Regions from separate parts of the Homo sapiens genome. Here region 1 is reported to be linked to region 2. The links are microRNA targets in miRTarBase. Many come from high-throughput screens and were not tested one by one. Region 2 holds a microRNA gene; the other region holds the end of a gene's coding sequence.

The links. The annotated mature microRNA hsa-miR-4633-3p reads AGGAGCUAGCCAGGCAUAUGCA and lies in region 2 at 2,584-2,605, shown strand. An mRNA with a match to its seed (bases 2 to 7 or 8) in the 3' UTR can be bound and repressed. Matches are read on the target gene's strand: a 7mer-m8 pairs with bases 2 to 8, a 7mer-A1 pairs with bases 2 to 7 and ends in A, and an 8mer does both.
Region 1: the mRNA of FEM1A is a reported target of hsa-miR-4633-3p. Seed matches in the 3' UTR shown: 7mer-m8 at 36-42.

Annotation. Positions count from the first base shown.
Region 1 is chr19:4,793,240-4,797,581 of GRCh38, reverse strand. It overlaps FEM1A (fem-1 homolog A), which reads right to left. Exons shown (of 1, transcript NM_018708.3): 1 at 1-4,342. The coding sequence ends at 3,718. Among named protein-coding and RNA genes, the nearest start is that of FEM1A, 3.7 kb to the right of the region's middle. RefSeq lists an enhancer at 4,224-4,342.
Region 2 is chr5:129,095,154-129,099,546 of GRCh38, forward strand. It overlaps MIR4633 (microRNA 4633), which reads left to right and starts at 2,535; the gene lies at 2,535-2,613. All of the region lies in intron 1 of ISOC1 (isochorismatase domain containing 1), which reads left to right. LOC124901060 (a long non-coding RNA gene) reads right to left here and starts at 1,626. Exons shown (of 2, transcript XR_007058926.1): 1 at 1,396-1,626; 2 at 1-246.

The DNA.
Region 1 (4,342 bases), not on the chromosome of region 2:
TCATCTTGGGACACCCACCCCACCCCAGTCTCAAGGGAGCTATCAACCAGGTCTTTAGGAATAATTGGGATCTGCTGGATCAGCCCTCACCTGAAACTGGTTGAGCTTTAAGATGGCCTTCATCTGGTCGGGTGCGGTGGCTCATGCCTGTAATCCCAGCACTTTGGGAGGCCGAGGTGGGCGGATCATGAGGTCAGGAGATCAAGACTATCCTAACACGGTGAAACCCCATCTCTACTAAAAATACAAAAAATTAGCCGGGCATGGTGGCAGGTGCCTGTAGTCCCAGCTACTCGGGAGGCTGAGGCAGGAGAATGGTGTGAACCCGGGAGGCTGAGCTTGCAGTGAGCCGAGATCACACCACTGCACTCCAGCCTGAGCGACAGAGACTCCGTCTCAAAAAAAAAAAAAAAAAAAAAAAAAGATGACCTTCATCTTAAGAGGGCCGTTTTTCCTACTTCATTATTTTTCTTCCATCCATGGGACTCTGATATGTTTTTCCTCCTTTAGAGGGCTGTTGTGTAAACAGGCAGTGCATTTAACCACAGAAAATGGTGCCTGGCATACAGTAGGTGCTCAATAAATGCTCACTAGTACTGTGTCTCCCAGGAGACAGCTTTGAGAGCACCTGCTGATTCAAACCCACTCCTTTGATGCAACACCAAACAGGCATACAACAGCCCAACAGCTGTCACCTGTGGGACTGTCCAGTCCCAAATGAAACAAGACAGCAGGTGTGTGAAGGCAAGAGATGGGAGACACCCACCCTCGGGAGAAGAGCCCTCCAACCCAATGCACCATGGAAGCAGCATGCGGTGCCCCACAGCAGGGCCTCTCCCCACTGCCACGTGAGGCGGGCGCACAGGGATTAACCGGACGTTCATATCGACAGCTCAATCCTTATCCCCAAGGGGGCCTGAAACCTGCCTGGCACATGGCAGGGGCTCAGCAAAATCCCATGGACCCAGCTAACGGGGTGGTGCTTTCTGGTGGGGGTTTGACTGTTCTGATATGGAGAAAACCAGAATTTTAGAATGGAACAAGTTTACACAAGGAGGTGAGATGAGATGGCAGATAAAGGAAAACAAAAAAGGGCCAGGCGTGGTGGCTCACACCTATAATCCCAGCACTTTAGGAGGCCGAGGCGAGTGGATCACAAGGTCAGGAGTTTGAGACCAGCATGGCCAATATGGTGAAACCCCGTCTCTGCTAAAAATACACAATTAGCCAGGCATGGTGGTGTATGCCTGTAGTCCCAGATGCTCAGGAGGCTGAGGCAGGAGAATCACTTGAACCCGGGAGGCAGCGGTTGCAGTGAGCCGAGATGGCGTCACTGCACTCCAGCCTGGGTGACAGAGCAAGACTCCATCTCAAAAAAAAAAAAAAAAAAAATGTAGAGACAGAGGTCTTACTATGTTGCCCAGGCTTCCCAAGGTGCTGAGATTACAGATGTGAGCCACCGTACCCAGCCTATTTTTTATTTTTGTAAAGACAGGCTCTCACTATGTTGCCCAGGCTTTTTTTCAAAGAGCAACATACTGTTTTTCAAATGAAATTTTACACAAAGCCCCAGTATGTAACATAGAGGCCAGGTGCAGTGGTTCATGCTTGTAATTCCAGCACTTTGGGAGGCTGAGGTGGGAGGATCGCTTGAGTTCAGGAGTTTGAGACCAGCCTGGCCAACATGGCAAAACCTGCCTCTACAGAAAATACAAAAATTAGCTGGGCATAGTGGCAGGTGCCTGTAATCTCAGCTACTCAGGAGGCTGAAGCAGAATTGTTTGAACCCAGGAGGCAGAGGTTGCAGTGAGCTGAGATCGCGCCATTGCACTCCAGCCTGGGGGACAGGGTGAGACTCTGTCTCAAAAAAAAAAAAAAAGCCCCAGTATGTAACACAGAAACCCCTCTGGCTAGGGGAGGTGGCCCTAGGGCTCTCTGTTCACTCACACCAATGCCATGGACTGACTCACCCACCTCCGACTTCCCCAGTTAACCCACGCCAAGGACGCATCAGGCAGGCCATTCTCTTTGAGTATCTTTTTAATGACTTAAACACCAGCACGGAGACTCGCCATGTAAACGGCCTCATTTCTGTGCTCTGTGCTTTGGGAGGGACAGGGACACCATTTCCCACCTCGGCTGAGTTAAAACCTGTCTTGTAAATTAATAAATAATTTCCTAACACGGCAAAAAAAAAAAAAAATCCAAACGAGACCTAGTTTCCATCCAGGGACAGGATATTTCTGGACACCCCCGGTCACTGCTCCTCCTAAGGGCCTGGCCGTGGCTACTGCAGGGAGGATGCAGTGAGAATGGCTTCCCTGCTGCTGTTTGCTGCTGTCTACGCTGGCCAAGAACCTGCTCCCGTCTGCCTGGGCTGATGGAGTCTCGCTCTTGACAAAAATCTTGCTGGGGCAGGTCCTCTGGCAGCCCCAGCACCTTACCCTGAGTCACGGGAACCTGAGACTTTGTCCAAACCTCGGCTGGAAGGCTGGTCTTGGCACTCGACGTCTTAGCTAGTGGATTTATCGCATTAAGACTGTACTTGGGCCTTTTTCATGATGACTTGGGTCTCAATCCTTGGAGCAGCTGAAAGAACAGCTCGGGCCACCTGTGGATGCACCCACAATGAAATCAGAGGCCACTGCAAGGCAGAGTGGCCTGCAGTTTTAACTCGGGCACTATGGCAATGCAGACCCAAACCAATTGTGCCAGTTCTTTGCTGGGTGGCAAAGTGTTTTCAGGCTTTGTGGTCACTCCTGATTTCTGTTTGGAAGCACAGTTCTCTCTCTAAGGAGAATGGAAACTTGGAAAGGCCTGTAAAATCGGAAAGCCTGTAAAAGGCCGTAGAGTGGAGATGTATAAAAATGTACGGTCACCCATGTTTTAGGGGTTGACACCGTGGACTTTTATCTCGCTCACCAAATTCCTCACACATACAGCTCACTCCCTGTGCCCTCGGCCATCTCAGGCACCACAAAATCCTCACTGCTTGAAATTCACTTATGGAGTCCAACAAACAACTTTCTTAAAAAAAAAAAAAAAGGCAGTAAAATCTCAGAATTTCTGTGCAACGCTTGCAACCTGCCCACTTATTAAATAAACAGAACACCAAACCAACCGAAAGCTATGCAAGTGGCAGGCTGCCCTGGGCAGAGCCCTGCCTGTCTGCCAGGGACTACGGTGGCACGGGAGCAGGGCGCGATCATGCTGGAAGAAATGAGAGGTGGTCTCATTCCCTGAATCTCAAACTCTCATCTCAGGAGCCCCCAGTCCTAACACTGTATTCAGCGGCTGGAGTTATCTGGCCAGGTAAAGGGACGAGGGAAGGCAGACAGTCCTCAACTTCTTCCTGTGTTTCTAGCAGGGAAGGAACGCAATGGCTTCAGTCCCTCCGCCTCTAGGTAACAAGGCAAAGGCCTCCCTAACCCAGGCAGACAGGATGTGGGGAAGGTCTTGTGTCTTTTCCTAACTCAGAATGAGTGAGCGGGCTCCCGGAGAAAGACTGTCCTCTTAGCACATGACCCCGCAGGCTTCTAGCACCAAAGGCTCGCTAACACCTCCGACCCTGTCTGCAGGTAGAGGGGATGGGAGGCAGAACCCTTCTCCTGATTGGTGCCTGAAGGAGGCAAGAACGAGCATCTGCTATGCCGCAGCCGGATTTCCCCCATCTCAGCAGGAGAGGGGAGAGGTGAGGGTGCAGGCGTTCTGGGCAGGTCAGTGCAGTTCGATGAACGCCTCCAGATCTTCCGGGATGAAGCCCTTGTAAGGGATCTTGTTCTTATCCAGGGCCCGGGCCGCAAGGCACTGCAGGGTCACGTAGTTGAAGGGCTGCATGGTACCCCTGGCCAGCAGCTTCTCGTCCAGCAGCTCGTAGGCCGTCTTCTTGAAGGCATTGGTGGCGTCCATGTGGGCCCCTGCTTCGATCAGGGCATTCATGATGGCCGGGCAGTTGTTCTGGGCTGCTATGTGTAGCGGGGTGTTGTTGTCAAAATCCCTGCTGTCCGGGTCGGCCCCGCAGTCGAGCAGCACTTTGACCACGTGCAGGGAGGGGAATCTGCCCACGGGATAGCGGCCCACGTTTGTGGTGTCCTTGTCCACAGCCATGTGCAGAGGGGTGAAGCCGTTCTTGCCCCTGGGCGCGCACTTGAGCAGGCGGTAGACGGTCTGGTGCTTCAGGTGCTCCTGGCTGGGGGTGCACTCCACTTTCTCCAGCAGGTAGAGCAGGTGGAGGATGATGGCCAGCGCCTTGGTGAACTGGGCTGAGTCTCCGGGCTCCCTGGGCAGCTGCAGGGCCCGTTCCACTTCCCGGACCCCTTTGGTGAGAACCCCCATGAGGTCT
Region 2 (4,393 bases):
CTCCTCAGGTGCCCCGAGCCGCCCGGGACCCGGGCCCTGCGCGAGTGGCTGAGTCCGAAGGGCTGCGCGTCTTTCGCAAGTTCCGGGGCCGGCTGGGGAATGCCCCTGTCCAAAGGTGATGGTCACCAGCTGTCCCCGGCGGGGGCGTGGGCCTCGTAGCTGGTTTCAGCGCCCGCGAACGCCCCCACGTGTGTGGTCCTCGGTCGCCCGCATCCGCTTTTTATGCCAGGATCAGGTCCCAGCCTCCTGCGTAACCAAAGGGCTGTGCTGTAGTAGCTGTTTTTATTTTGGGGTGATGGGTGATGCAGAATGGGGGGAAATGAGATTGTGGGGAGTATTGGTCTTAGGGTTTGTTCCTAGAGTTGTGTTAACCACTTGCGGAAACGCAAACTTTGGGAGTCAAACCCATTCCCCCCCGCCTTCCCAGGCTCTCAGGTCCTTGGGCTTAAGAGTTCCCTAACCTTAAGCAAATAACCATTTGCTTAGCCTCCTCTTAGTAAAGTGTCTACTGACTTGATTACGTTTTGTCGTCTGCATTGAAAAAGTCATTTGACTCCATGATTGTAATTCCTTCTTGAATACAAATACCCAACTTAAGCTAGACCTTGAGTTCCTGGGCCTGCTGGCTGGGAAAGTTGTTCTACCTGAGGACTACTTAACAGCATTTATTTTAAGCTGTGCTCTCATGCTAGGCGGGTTAATCTTCCGCCCTCTTTAGGATCAGATTGTTCACTGGCGAATTTATATTTTGGAAAGGAAAGAATATAAGGTATAATTTAGGTAGTACACTGTCGATATCATTTCTTTAGCTGAGAAACTGATAAGTCATTTTTTCAGAAGACCAAACTGAAATGTGGGATTCGGGGATAAAAGGTATTTTAATATTTAAGTGTCATTTTCTTTCTTTTTTGTTTTTAGTTTTTATGGGCACATAATAGTTGTACATATTTATAGGAGACGTGATATTTTGATTCAAGCATACAGTGTAGTGATCAAATCAGGGTAATTGGAATATCCATTACCTGAAACATTTATCATTTATTTCTTTGTTCCAAATTCATTTTTGTAGTTATTTTGAAATATACAATAAATTATTGTTAACTATAGTCACGCTATTGTGCTACTGAACACTAGAGCTTATTCCTATTATCTGTGTTTTTTGTACCCATTAACAGTGCCATTTTCTGAGGATTATTCCCTAGTTTTTTTCCGCTGTAGTTGGCAGCTGAATTGATGATGTTTCCTGTCACCCCAACACCTGTGCCAGAAGTGTCCAAAGCAGGTACTTTAGCTTCGATAAAGTTCCTGCATTCAGAGGACAAAGTCAGAGACTGCACTCTCTGCCAGTGGAGAACCTGGAACTGGATACAGTGATCTGATACCCCAGAATCTTACCTGCTGCTCAGATAGGGAATTGCAGTTCTTAGGTGCTTAAGACTCCTCATTTTTATGTCTTCAAGCGTTTTCGTGTCTGACACCTCTCTGCAGCCTTCCTTGTCAGTCCTTTTACGTTACTGCTGCCAGAATACTCAGATGTTGGATGCACCTTTGAGAAGTCCATTTATAAAGGCTAGAATCCAAATACTAACTGCGGAGGTCTGGGACTAAGGATGCAGACTTCTTTATGAAGCATTTCCTGTTACGGCTTGGAGGGAGGCTGGGCTCTTATCTAAGATAATGCTATTCTAAACTAGGCCCCAGCTCTGTAAGAGTCCCCGCCTTCCAAGATAGGATTTTTATATTTGAAAATTTCAGGGCCTTGGTCTGGCAACTCTTAAAAACATTCTAGAAATTAATGAAATGTATGTACCTGAAAACGCTTGTACATTCTCAAAAGGCGTTATATAATTCTGGTCACCTGTAGCTTTTGCAGTGTTTTGCTTGGTATAGGAGATTATGTATAGTTCACTTTTTTTTGGTGAGGTTTAAAATAACAATAGCATTACTCTACTCCCTCTTCAGAAGAAATTTTTCCGCCAACTAGTCTAATAATTCTTAAGCATTAGTTATATTTTTGCATTTATATAGCTTTATATTTTTAATTCTTTAAAAATATTTTCTCTTCTATATTATCTCATTTTAGTAGTTATACTTTGACTTCTTCAGCCTGATGCCTCTCCTAGCTTAGAGGTAGATAAAGGAAGGGGATAGATACATAAATATGCACACACTGTGTATCGTATATACCTTCTGATACCGATTTATGTCTATATGAGAAGAGAGAGATATATATACACACATACATATATATGCATATGTGTGTATAATCTCAGAAAGTCATGATATTTCTCATGACTACTGTACACTATATTCTTTGGAACCTAACAGCATAATCCTAGAGACTTGGATGTTTTATGGCTGTAAGAGACCATACAGTTCATTCCACAACATGTGAGTGGCAGCTTTAAATGCCTGGCACAGTGAATGCAAACTTGGATTCAATTCTTGTTCCTTACCTAATAAATGAACTTTCACTTTGAGGAAGTGCAGAAGAACATAGGGAGGTGGAGGTGAGTAACTTGCTGCAGGTTACATGGCAAGTCTCCGCATATGCCTGGCTAGCTCCTCCACAAATGCGTGTGGAGGAGCTAGCCAGGCATATGCAGAGCGTCACTTACAGCCGAACACAGCACTACTGCTTGCATGTTTAATGAGAATTGAGCAGTCTGGAAAACAAGTCACAAACTTGAGCTCTTGTTTGTTCATTTGTCTTGGTGCTGCTCCTTGTTCTTTGGAATAAATGCTTGTCACTTAGGAAGACTCAAGGTGGCCTATCGGTGAGTCCATGTTACTGGGGATGGTTGGCCCCTTCTTGAAGGCAGGGACAAAGAGCACAAGTTTGGCCACATGTAGTTCATTGCGTAAATAGTGATTTATTATTTCTCCACACTTGGGCCCTGGAGCCTCTGTGGCCCTGGCTCACGTACTGTTAGTCTAGAATGTATTCTTCATTTGCGCCGTGGTATGAGTTGCCTTCGTGCTTATTCTGACAGCTGTGGCTGATGACCTTGTGAAACACAGTGGCTGCCTTTGCCACACTGCACCCGTGCTTGTTAGTGGTTCTATGAGAACTGATCTTTAAGACCCCCCATTGCCAGTATTAGGCTGTGGTAAGTTTTTGGTGACTTCTTTTCTTAAATATTCTGTCAAAGTAACAATGTCTGCCGACAGCTCAGGTAGATGAAGGCATAGCTCATGTTTCATGCTTGGTTTGTATGTCTGCAGCTTTGCCAAATGCTTGAGATCTGATGAATTTTGAGACACGGGAAAGAATATAAATGAGAGGATTATGTAGTGGGGATTTACGTCATTTTTATGACTTAAAAGTTTTAATTTTTCAAAAGGTATTTTGTAAGTTTTAGGTAAAGGAAACATTTAACTATGGAAATTTACATAAATGTTGTATCATGCTACCACCAGTGCATTTTCCAGCCTGTGGCCAGGAAAGACAGAGCCTGCAGAGAAGAGAGGAGGAAATGGACAGTGTAAGAAGGATGCCAGTGAGGGGATTTTACTTCTGTACATAGCAGGGAAGGCTTTGGCAGCTTTCTGTGGCCAGAAGATAAGGGCGTTCCAGGGAAGGTTATTTTGACCTTTTCCCAAGATGGTTAACTGGCAGGGCATTTTGCTCCAGCTTTCATTTTCTTGGAAGTTTATTACTATTATTATTATTTTAAACAGGGGCATGAACATTTTATAGCTAGAAGAGACTGACAGGTTCATGGTGGGAAGGGAGGGAAGGCAGGAGGAAAGGAACCTTGTTCGCCTTTGGCTTGATAGTTTGAAGGTAGTGGTTTTTGATTACAAAACCTTTGCCTCAGGAGCGTGGCAGGAAGAGGGGGTAGATGAGCTAATGCTCAGAGAGGAGACAGCTGGATCCTGAGGTGGTTGTATTGTCTCTACCCCATTGGTTTGATGTGTGTCACTTAAAAAAAAATTAACATTCCAGAATAATACCTAAAGCATTGTATCCTTTTTTGCTCCTTCTGAATACATTAGAGCTACCTATAAATAAACTGTGTTTGAGAGTAGGAGCTATGATCTGAATTTTGAATTTTTTTTCTTGCATTTAGCTAACCAAGGGAATCCCAATGTAGATTCAAATGTCATTGTGGTCCTGGGCTTGTCTAGCTTCACCTTCACCCCAGTCTGAGGCACAGTCTTAAGAAATCCTTCAGTCCTCACCCCTGGGGTGGGTGGAGACAGCTGGCGTCCCTTGGGGATTTAGAAAACTCATACCTTAACTGATAAGCTAGGGTTGTAACCTTATGCCAGTGACATCAATGTTCACAATAGGTGAATATGTTGTAAAAATAAGAGCCAATAAGTATTATTTCACAGCCTAAATTAAAAAGTCCCTGATCTGTTTTTCCAGGAACAATCTTGTCTTAGT